Linked DNA regions of Homo sapiens: region 2 is linked to region 1. Evidence: fine-mapped expression QTL. A gene starts in region 1. The other region holds a variant in brackets. All regions are shown on one strand. Distances are between the middles of the regions.

Region 1 (5,359 bases):
TGTCCCCAACTCATAGAGGAGGAAATGTGTGTTAAATGCGTAATTATTGTGAGCTGTTCTATACATGCTGGGGGAGGGGCAGACCTCACAGGCTCACCCCAGGGGTTCCCCTGCAGTGAGGAGACTTGGGGTAGGAGAAAGAGGGCCCATCTGTGCAGTCACTGGCATTTGGTGGGTGGGGGTGGTGGTCAGGGAAGTGGTCACTAGGGCTGTTTTGAGAACCACCTCTCAATTCACGATTTGCCATGACTTACTGCAAACATGGCCTGGGCAGAGGCTCGCCCAGGTGCCCCACCTCTCTGGCTGCTTCCTTATAGTTCGGGCTTCGGAAGCCACATTCAACCCTGGCACACAGTGGTTTTTCCTCGTGCTGGGGCCACCAGTTCTGTGTTGGGATGCACCTACTCCAGCCCCTTCAGGGAGCAGTCAGCCTCTAAGGCATCCCTCCAGGAAGCTGCCCTGGCTGCAACAAAGGGCCTTTGTGTGTCTGTCCCACCAGCACTCTCTCTCATGCCCTCAAGCTGTCCCTGGTCTTGGCATGGGCAATGAACACCTGCTCACATAGGGCTGATTTGCAGGGTTCCCCCAGCCAGCTGTCACCTTCTCCCTGTCTCAGCTGAGGGCCCAGCTGACCTGGTGGGGTCCAGCGTGTGAACCCAGGGGAGACCTTGCTCCCCTGGAAGACAGGAGAAGCTGGGGAGGATTTATTCACAAGCAGAGGCCTAGAGGGATTCTGAGGCCACCTGCCTACCCCAGCTGACAGCTCCTGCCCCACACCCCATCAGCCCTGCATGGTTTCCACTTTTTCCTCCCCTACCCTCTTTTCTTGCCTGAATAGTACACCCCACCCTCCATCTGTATGCTCCTCACTTGCCCCTACAAAATCCACTCCAAGGACAGACACAGTGCCTCACCTGTAATCCAAGTACTTTGGGAGGCCGAGGCAGGGGGATTGCTTGAGCTCAGGAGTTCGAGACCAGTCTGGGCAACATGTTGAGACCTCCATCTGTGCCCCCCAAAAATACAAAAATTAGCTGGGCGTGGTGGCGTGTGCCTGTAGTCTACTTGGGAGGCTGAGGTGGGAGATCACTTGAGCCTAAGCAGTCGCGGCTGCAGTGAACAAGATCGCGCCACTGCACTCCACCCTGGGTAACGGAACAAGACCCTGTCTCAAAAAAAAAAAAGAAATCCACTCCCCATATGATAGCCAGCGGAATCTGCAGCAAACTGAAATGGGATCAGATTGGGTAACCTTGCCCAAAACTGTCTAGCATCTTCCCTCCTACCGTTATAATAAATTCCCAATCCCCGAAGCTGCCGACCAAGTCTTTGGTGGGCCCCTGTCCGTCCCTGGATCTCCCCTCCCACCTTACAACCCTCCCTAGCGTCCCACTGGCGTTTTTGTTCCTGCAAAATGCCAAGACCCTGCCACCTTGGGCTTGGTCTCGAAGGCGCTCCTCAGCTGATTCCTCATCCTTCAGAAAGGGTCACCTCCTCAAGGAGGCCTTCCAGATTTACTACACCCTTGCATGGACCCACCAGTTTGTACGTGAACATTTATGAGTGTGAGTCCTTGTTTTTTTTTCCTGTCTTGACCACTGGATTATGAACAGAGAAGGTCAGGGAACAGAATTGTGTTCCCTGCTCTGCCCAGCACTTGGAACAGCGCTTGGAACAGAGCGGTCACTGCGCAAATAATAGCGGAATGGATAAATGAACGCAAGGAGGCACAGGAATCCCAGAGGCCGCTCCAACCGGGAGCCCGACCCCTCATCCCAGGCTCTAGGATCCGCGACAGCCGGCGAGGGGCGCCAGGGAGCCCAAGGCACGCGCCAACCCTCTGCGGCCGCGCCGCGCCCTGCGTTGCCAGACGCCCGTTGCCATGGCGCCAGGGAGGGGACAAGAGCCCAGGACCCTAGCGCGCGCCGCAATCTGTGCGGTCACGCCCGGCCCGCGTTGAGAGAGCGCTTGGCAGCCAGCGGGTGGACGCGCCCCTCAGCGGAGGGCACAAAGCCTGGCCGCAGGCACGCAGGACACTCAGAACGGAGCGATGGGGACGTCGCGGGCCGCAACACGGACTTTGCCTGGGTGTCAGCTCGGGTCCACAGCGCGGCCGAGGCGCACCTTGCGCCACACACTGCTCTTTTACTGGAGAAAGCGGGACGGCCGCCACGGACGGCGCAACCCCTGCGTGCGCCGCGGATCGACGCCTGAGGGCGCCAGCAGGGTCCGACCCTCCTGCTCCGTCCCCGCCCCTGTCCTCGGGCCCGGCCAGCGCCGCGGCCTCTGGCTCCGCCTCCACACGGGCCCGCAAGCAGGCACCGCCCCCGACTCTGCCCCCAGCCCCGGCTCGGGCCCGGCCCCCGCGAGCACGGCGCGCGCCTCCGGCTCCTGTGGCCGCGCGCTGGCCTGGAGGCTGACCTGGAGGCTCATCTGGAGGCCGAGCTGACCCGGCAGGCCTTGCGCGGGCAACATGGCGGCGCCCGGCGAGCGGGGCCGCTTCCACGGCGGGAACCTCTTCTTCCTGCCGGGGGGCGCGCGCTCCGAGATGATGGACGACCTGGCGACCGACGCGCGGGGCCGGGGCGCGGGGCGGAGAGACGCGGCCGCCTCGGCCTCGACGCCAGCCCAGGCGCCGACCTCCGATTCTCCTGTCGCCGAGGACGCCTCCCGGAGGCGGCCGTGCCGGGCCTGCGTCGACTTCAAGACGTGGATGCGGACGCAGCAGAAGGTGCAGTTCCCTGCCCGATTTCTCCCAGCCCCGCGCAGCCCCTGTCCCCGCCCCCGCCCAGGTACCCCGGCAGAGCTTCCCAGGGTTGCCTGTCCCTGAACCTTGCCCCCCGGGTAGGCCCGGCCTTACAGCCTTCATCCGCGCGTGGGTTGGATCGTCTGCAGGACTTTGGCCGGAGTCCAGTGGGCCACCGGCTGGGCCGTACAGTGGGGAGCTTTGGGCGCCTTTGTTCGGAGAATGAACTCACTCTCGGTCGGCCTGCTTCCGCAGCGGGACACCAAGTTTAGGGAGGACTGCCCGCCGGATCGCGAGGAACTGGGCCGCCACAGCTGGGCTGTCCTCCACACCCTGGCCGCCTACTACCCCGACCTGCCCACCCCAGAACAGCAGCAAGACATGGCCCAGTTCATACATTTATTTTCTAAGTTTTACCCCTGTGAGGAGTGTGCTGAAGACCTAAGAAAAAGGTAAGATGTGTTTGCACGCAGCAGAGCTTTGCACTGGAGCCTGGGCCTGGGGCTCCTGGCTGACGTTATAGCGGGGAACGTAGAGAAACGGATGCAGAGGTGGCAGAAGTTTGCTGAGGAGCAGGGACCTCCAACAGGTGAGGACTGGGGCTATCTGAGCCTCCTCCTCTCGTCTCAGAAGCCAAGCTGTCGGGATCTGCTGCTGGGTACTGCTCCTGCCACAGCCACAGGGCTTCCAGGAAGGGATTCCCTGCCTTGTCTGGCACTGAAGGCGGTTTCCCGCAAGTTAGGGAAGACTCCACTTTGCCTGACTTCTAGAGTAGGACTTCTGGTTTTAAAATCTTGGAAATCCACTGCTTTTGCTCCCAAGAGCCATCTCTTCCTCACTGAGGGATCCAAGAGCCAGCACTGGCCCTTGCAGGTGTTTCTAGGCCAGATGTATAGGGTAGAGCCGCCATTGTTGCTATAAGGCTGGTCAGTTAGAATGAAGTCTCTTGCTGAACTGACGCACCAGGGCCTGCCCTCAGATGCTAAGAAACAAGTCCAGTTTTCAGTTACAAGGCTGTGCCCAGCCCCACCCAGGCCACACTCTGCCTGAGGCCAGGGACACTGGATGCCGCTTCCTGGGTGTTAGGAGCTTATAAAATTGCCAGGTCTGTGCTGTAATGTGTTGCCTTGAGGCCTCGTTGGAGTTTGCCAAGCTGTCCAGGTGGGTGTTTGCGCAGCCCTGGGAGTTCATCACACCCGGGGAGCTGCAGGGTCAGCCCTGTTCTGGGAGTGCCTGTACCTTGGAGCATAAGGGCACTCCCAGGTGTAGTTCACAGCAGTGCCCCAGCTCTCCTTCCTTGACAGCAGACAGGGAACTGGCAGGGGCAGTGGAGCCGCTGCGTCCTCTCATTCTTTACCTGCTCTCCCTACACAGGCTGTGCAGGAACCACCCAGACACCCGCACCCGGGCATGCTTCACACAGTGGCTGTGCCACCTGCACAATGAAGTGAACCGCAAGCTGGGCAAGCCTGACTTCGACTGCTCAAAAGTGGATGAGCGCTGGCGCGACGGCTGGAAGGATGGCTCCTGTGACTAGAGGGTGGTCAGCCAGAGCTCATGGGACAGCTAGCCAGGCATGGTTGGATAGGGGCAGGGCACTCATTAAAGTGCATCACAGCCAGAGCCTGTTGTGTCTCAGTTGGGTGGTCCCCAGGACACTGCCTGTGGGGACCTGCCCTGCCCCTCTTAGGTTTGGAGCAGAAGTGGAGGTGCCCACAGCAGGTACCCACTGGCCCCCTCCTCAGTGGAGACCCCAAGGAGCTGCAGCTGAACTGCAGGGGAGGGAAGGAGGAGCAGCCTGGGCTGCCCCTTGACATTCAGGATGTAGCTTCCTGCCCACCGCATACCCTGGCGCCTCACTCCTCACACGGGAAGACAGCGGGCCTGGCTGGGCATCCCTGTGCCTGTCCCTGGCGGCCAGGCCATTGCCTTCCCACTATGCAGCCAGGGATGCCCCTGCCCCCCATGGCTCTGTGCTGCTCACTTTAGGGGGCTCAATTCTCCACTCTGCTCAGTCCCTACAGGGAAAGCTCAGGTCGGGTCTTTCTGAGGGTCCACCAGCCATCCTACCCTCTCCCTGCCTGGCACATGCCTGCCAGCGTTGTGTCATGCCTGTCCACAGGGGATTCGTGGGGCTCACTTCATCAGAGTTTGAAGCCCAAATGAAACGCTGAAGTGACTGAGAACCTGGCTTCAGTATATTTTCTGCTGGGGCTTAATAAAGCAGTAGACAGGGCTTGTTCCATCCCTCTGTGCTCAGCTGCATTTCCTGCTGGGGTCCTGGTTCCTCAGGAGAGAGAGACCACAGGGTGAGAGTGAGCCAGGAACAGCAAGGACGTTGATTGGTTGGGGCAGGGGGGCCAGAGTAGCTGATGTAGGAGTACTGGGAGGCCAGACGGCACGAGGTCTCCAAGGCCCCAGCAAAGCCATGGCTTCTACCCCTAGTTCCCCTGACAGGAAGTTCTTGGCGGGTTTGGAGCCAGGGGATGGCATGGAGTGATGTGGCTTTGAAGGGTCCTCTGGCTGCTGAGCTGGGATGAGGCAGGTAAGGGTGGAACAGGAGGGGTGGGGAGGAAGCCGGGGCAGTCACCGAGTGACCACCAAGAGGAAGAC
Region 2 (5,359 bases), 27 kb after region 1:
GGCAAGGCAGGCCCTGGCAAAGCCAGGAAGCGCCCTGAGGAAGCCACGGGCCAAGGTCCTCTGTGACTGTTCCTGCACCCCAGATCTCCCCGGGGTCTGGGTCGGCCTCCTCCTGTCACATGACAGACTGATAGAATCTCCAAATGTCTTTTTCCAAAAAGGGCACAGACTATAAGCCCACAAATTGCTCAGAGAATTGCAGCATCTCTTCAACTCCTTTGATGTAAACGTCTACTTAAAGAAAGAAAAGGAAAAAAAGAAAGAACCTACACCTCAATACTGCTCTGCATCACTTCTGGGGAGAAGAAAGTTAGATTCCTGGCAGATGTCACCAGCCGAAGCCTTCTATGAACAAACCGGGGGAATTTCACAATGCTGGAAGCAAACAAATCTCTAAGCTCAGCAAACCAACGGGCTCCAGCCAGGTGCCCACAGCCAGCAGCTGGCAGTGCAGTGAGGGTGGAGGAACGCTGCATGGTACCCTCTGACCCCTCCACGGCTTCCAAGTCTGTACAGTCAAAAACGTCTCCCATTCACTGCGGAGATGAGCGCCAAAGGCGGGGGGCGGCGGCGAGGAGGAGGACAACTTCCTAACACTTTTCTCCCTTCCCGCCAAGAAGCGCGAGGGGGCCTTCCCCTCCGACGGGCAGGTCTCCTTCCGAGGCTAGTGTCACCTCCACTCCACAGAGGAAAACGTCAGTCTCGGAAGGAGTTTGCTCAGGGTCATCCAATGGGGGCCCAGAAACACAGCTGGGCTGAGAATGCCCAGAGTTTGACGCCCTGCTTCCAGGACGGATGGCCTCCGCAGAGTCCCCCTTGCCTTGTTTCCTCGAATGGAGGACCCTGGAAAATAAACTCCTGAAGACGAGCAGGTCACCGAGTTCTCCATCTGATCAGGACCCTTCCTGAGGCCCGGCAGGAACCCCCGGGACACGGGGGAAGTCCCCAGGCTGTCCCCACAGGGCTTGCCCCCTCCTGCAACCCGCTCGGCCGCCTCCGGCCTCCAAGCCCCAACGCCCCGCCGTCAGCCGCACGGCCGGGACCCCGCCCTGGGTGGCCCCACCAGGCCTCTCTCGGAAGCCGGCGCCGCCGGGCCCACGGCCGGACCTCAGTGAGGCAAAGTCCCCATCCGGTCGCCGGGAGCCCCGCTGCCCCCGGGCCGCGCCCCCGGCGCCCCGCACCTGGCGCAGCTCCTCGCGGCACACGGCGCAGTAGCGCTGCTCGCAGAGCACCCGCATCTTGGTAGAGCAGCGGTAGCACACCGGGTGGTCGCAGCGGCCCCAGCGCCGTGGCCTCCAGGTCTCCGCAGCACAGCACGCAGCTCCCGCCTCCCCGCTCAGGAGCTGCCGCCGCCTCCGCCTCCATGTCCGCGCGCCGCCCCTCGGCGCCCCCCGGCCGCCGCCATGGTCCGGGATCCGGCCCCCCTCTCGGCCGGTCGTGGCGCCGAGCGGCCTGGCTCCCGGCGGGCCCGCCCCTTCCGGGCAAACGTCACCGCCCCACCCAGCAACGGGCCCGCCCGGCGCAAGTGCGCGTCGCGACTTCCGCCTCAGCGCGGCGCCGGCTAGAGCGGTGGCCCTGATAGAGGCCGCTCTACCATGAGCCGACCGCTCGAAGGTCCGCGCGGCCACGCGGCCAGCCCCGGGCTCCTCTGGGCCACGCGTGTCACGTCAACACTCGCCGGGCTCCACGAACTGGCGTTGTCAGATGAAACACGGCACAACTGGTTTGCATCTCAGATGAACAAGGGGTCATGTCTTAGTGTAAGTATAGCCCAAATATTGATGGGCTAGGCTCATACTAAAATGCTGCTCCTTATCTGAAATTGACATTTAAGTGGACCTGCCGTATTTGTATTTGCTAAATCTGGCCACCTTATTAGGAAACCGGTCTCTGGTATTTGGAACACACACAAGCGTGGTCCCGCCTCCACTTCCCTAATGCCCTGTTTAAATCCCTACATGAAAGACAACGTGAAAGGCAGCACGTGGTGACGTCCATCTCGCAGCCCAGGGCAGTCTCGCCAGGCCTGCCCAGAAGGGGCCTCTGGAAGGCACGAACGGAACCTGTCCTCTTTACGCTGGGCCCAGCACAGGACGTGTTTGGATGGATGCTGCAGTAACAGGGCCTCCTCCCTACCCTTGAGGGCCAGGCACACTCAGGACCTCCCTCCCTCTGCCATCCAGAAGGCAGGTCCAGATCTAAACCCTACTGGAAAAGAGGCAGTAAATTGTATCAATGAGCCTGAACTTTACTTACTTTATTTGAGACCGGGTCTTGCTCTTGCTGTAACACAGTGGTACGATCACAGCACACTGAGGCCTCAACCTCCTGGGCTCAAGTGATCCATGCCCAGTGAACTTGGACTTTAGAAACAGACACAAATGGGCTTGAAACCCCAATTTTGCCACTTGAAAAAAGCTGTCAGGCACAGTGGCTCAAGCCTGTAATCCCAGCAGTTTGGGAGGCTGGGTGGCCCGGATTGCTGGAGCCTGGGAATTTGAGACCAGCCTGGCCTACACAGTCAGGCTCCATCTCCACAAAAAAAATTTTTAGGCCGGGCGTGGTGGCTCACGCCTGTAATCCCAGCACTTTGGGAGGTTGGGATCACCTGAGGTCAGGAATTGGAGACAAGCCTGACCAAAATGGTGAAACCCCATCTCTACTAAAAATACAAAAATTAGCCGGGCGTGGTGACATGTGCCTGTAGTCCCAGCTACTCGGCAGCCTGAGGCAGTAGAATCTCTTGAAACCGTGAGGCAGAGGTTGCAGTGAGCCGAGATCACGACAATCACGCCACTGCACTCCAGCCTTGGCAACAGAGCGAGACTCCATCTCAAAAAAAAAAAAAAAAACACACACGACTAGAGTGCAGTGGCGTGATCTCGGCTCACTGCAAGCTCCGCCTCCCGGGTTCACGCCATTCTCCTGCCTCAGCCTCCTGAGTAGCTGGGACTACAGGC[A/G]CCCGCCACCACGCCCTGCTAATTTTTTTTTTTTATTTTTAGTAGAGACAGGATTTCACCATGTTCGCCAGGATGGTCTCGATCTCCTGACCTCTTGATCCACCTGCCTTGGCCTCCCAAAGTGCTGGGATTACAGGCATGAGCCACTGTGCCTGGCCAAAACACACAAAAATTAACGGGGCGTGGTGACATGCGCCTGTAGTCACAGCTTCTCGGGAGGCTGAGGCACGAGAAACGCTTGATCCCAGGAGGCAGAGGTTTCAATGAGCAGAGATTGCGCCCCTGCACTCCAACCTGGGCCACAGAGTGAGACTCCATCTCAAAAAAAAAAAAAGAAAACTGGGAAAAGTTATTGTAAGGATGTAAGAAGTTCAACATCTTGGCTGGGCGCGGTGGCTCACACCTGTAATCCCAGCTTGAAATTGGCACTTTGTGAGGCTGAGGCAGGTGGATCACGAGGTCAGGAGATCAAGACCATCATGACTAACGCGGTGAAACCCCATGTCTACTAAAAATACAAAAAGAAATTAGCCTGGTGTGGTGGCGGGCGCCTGTAGTCCCACCTACTCCGGAGGCTGAGGTAGGAGAATGGTGTGAACCCGGGAGGTGGAGCTTGCAGTGAGCCAAGATTGCGCCACTGCATTCCAGCATGGGCAACAGAGTGAGACTCCATCTCAAAAAAAAAAAAAAAAAAAAAGGCCACAAACTTGGCTTAAAACACACAAATGTATTATCTTTAGTTCTGGAGTCCAGACTCTAACGTGGGTCACACTGAGCTAAAATCAGGGTGTCAGTATCACTGCATTCCTATTTGGAGGCTCCAGGGGAGAATCTGCTTCCTTGCCTTTTCCAGCTGTTAGAGGCTGCCCGAACTCCTTGGCTCATGGCTGCTTTCTGTCTTTCAGAGTTGACTCTGGGGGAGGCCAGTGGTCCAATCTTTTTTTTTTCTTTGAGATGGAGTCTCTGTCGCCCAGGCTGAAGTGCAGTGGCACAGTCTTGGCTCACTGCAACCTCCACTTCCCAGGTTCAAGCAATTCTCCTGCCTCAGCCTCCCGAGTAGCTGGGACTACAGGCACCCGCCACAACACCCGGCTAATTTCTTTTTGTATTTTTAGTAGAGACAGGGTTTCACCGTGTTAGCCAGGATGGTCTCCATCTCCTGCCCTCATGATCCACCCGCCTCGGCCTCCCAAAGTGCTGGGATTACAGGCGTGAGCCACCCCGCCCAGCTTTTTTTTTTTTAGGTGGAGTTTCGCTCTTGTTGTCCAGGCTGGAGTGCAATGGCACAATCTCGGCTCACTGCAAACTCCGCCTCCCGGTTCGAGCAATTCTCCTGCCTCAGCCTCCTCAGTAGCTGGGATTACAGGCATGCGCCACCACGCCCGGCTAATTTTGTATTTTTAGTGGAGACGGGGTTTCTCCATGTTGGTCAGGCTGGTCTTGAACTTCTGACCTCAGGTGATCCGCCTGCATTGGCCTCCCAAAGTGCTGGGATTACAGGCGTGAGCCACCACGCCCAGCCGCTAATCTCCTATTAAAGCCAGCTGGCCTGATGTGGTGGCTCAGGCCTGTAATCTCAGCACTTTGGGAGGCTGAGGCAGGCAGATCACTGGAGGTCAAGAGTTCGAGGCCAGCCTGGCCAACATGGTGAAACCCCATCTCTACTAAAAATACAAAAATTAGCCGGGCATGGTGGTGGGCGCCTATAATTCCAGCTACTTGGGAACCTAAGGCAGGAGAATCGCTTTGAACCCGGGAGGCAGAGGTTGTAGTGAGCGGAGATCATGCCACTGTACTCCAGCCTGGGTGACAGAGCAAGACTCTGTTTCAAATAAAATAAAATAAAGCCAGCTAATTAGCAACCTTAATTTTATATTCCCTGGTGTGGTGGTGCGCACGTGTAGTCTCAGCTACTCGGGAGGCCGAGGCAGGAGGATTGTGTCAGTCCAGGAGTTCTGAGGATATAGTGGGCTGTGTCAGTCAGGTGTCTGCACTAAGTTTGGCATCGACTTGGTGACCTCCTGGGAGCAGGGGACCACCAGGTTGCCTCAGGAGGGGTGAACTGGGCCAGTTTGGAAAGAGAGCAGGTCAAAACTCCTGTGATCAGTAGTGGGATCACGCCTGTGAATAGCCACTAGACATCAGCCTGGGCAACATAGTGAGACCCTGCCTCTAATCAACCATTTTATCTACAGCCTAATTCCCTCCTACTATGTGGCATAAATATTCACAGGTTGCAGGGATTGGGGGCGAACATCTTTGGGGGGCTACTGTTCTGCGTACACACATGGGTGAAGGCCAGGGATGCTACTAAAGATTCTCAGTGCACAGGATGGCAAAGGTCAGTAGTGCTGCAGCTACGAGTTTTTCTGTTTCTGGCCGGGCGCAGGGGCGCATGC

The links. PIP is the estimated chance that this variant, and not a neighbour inherited with it, causes the effect. A credible set is the group of variants that fine-mapping cannot tell apart.
Region 2: its variant is the best candidate, but not a certain one, in a credible set for the expression of GFER in esophagus mucosa (GTEx, PIP 0.50).

Annotation. Positions count from the first base shown.
Region 1 is chr16:1,981,746-1,987,104 of GRCh38, forward strand. It overlaps GFER (growth factor, augmenter of liver regeneration), which reads left to right and starts at 2,448. Exons shown (of 3, transcript NM_005262.3): 1 at 2,448-2,731; 2 at 3,002-3,198; 3 at 4,121-5,359. The coding sequence starts at 2,474. The coding sequence ends at 4,283. It overlaps TBL3 (transducin beta like 3), which reads left to right. Exons shown (of 22, transcript NM_006453.3): 22 at 1-1,184. RefSeq lists silencers at 987-1,179, 2,200-2,739.
Region 2 is chr16:2,008,343-2,013,701 of GRCh38, forward strand. It overlaps ZNF598 (zinc finger protein 598, E3 ubiquitin ligase), which reads right to left and starts at 1,479. Exons shown (of 14, transcript NM_178167.5): 1 at 1,396-1,479; 2 at 1,283-1,394; 3 at 1,182-1,281. The coding sequence starts at 1,405. LOC124903626 (a long non-coding RNA gene) reads left to right here and starts at 1,543. Exons shown (of 2, transcript XR_007064941.1): 1 at 1,543-1,760; 2 at 1,966-2,246. It also overlaps the pseudogene RN7SL219P. RefSeq lists silencers at 778-847, 858-1,287, 1,378-1,597, 3,688-3,883 and enhancers at 1,205-2,153, 1,678-1,837. The variant A/G (reference allele first, on the strand shown) is at 2,961.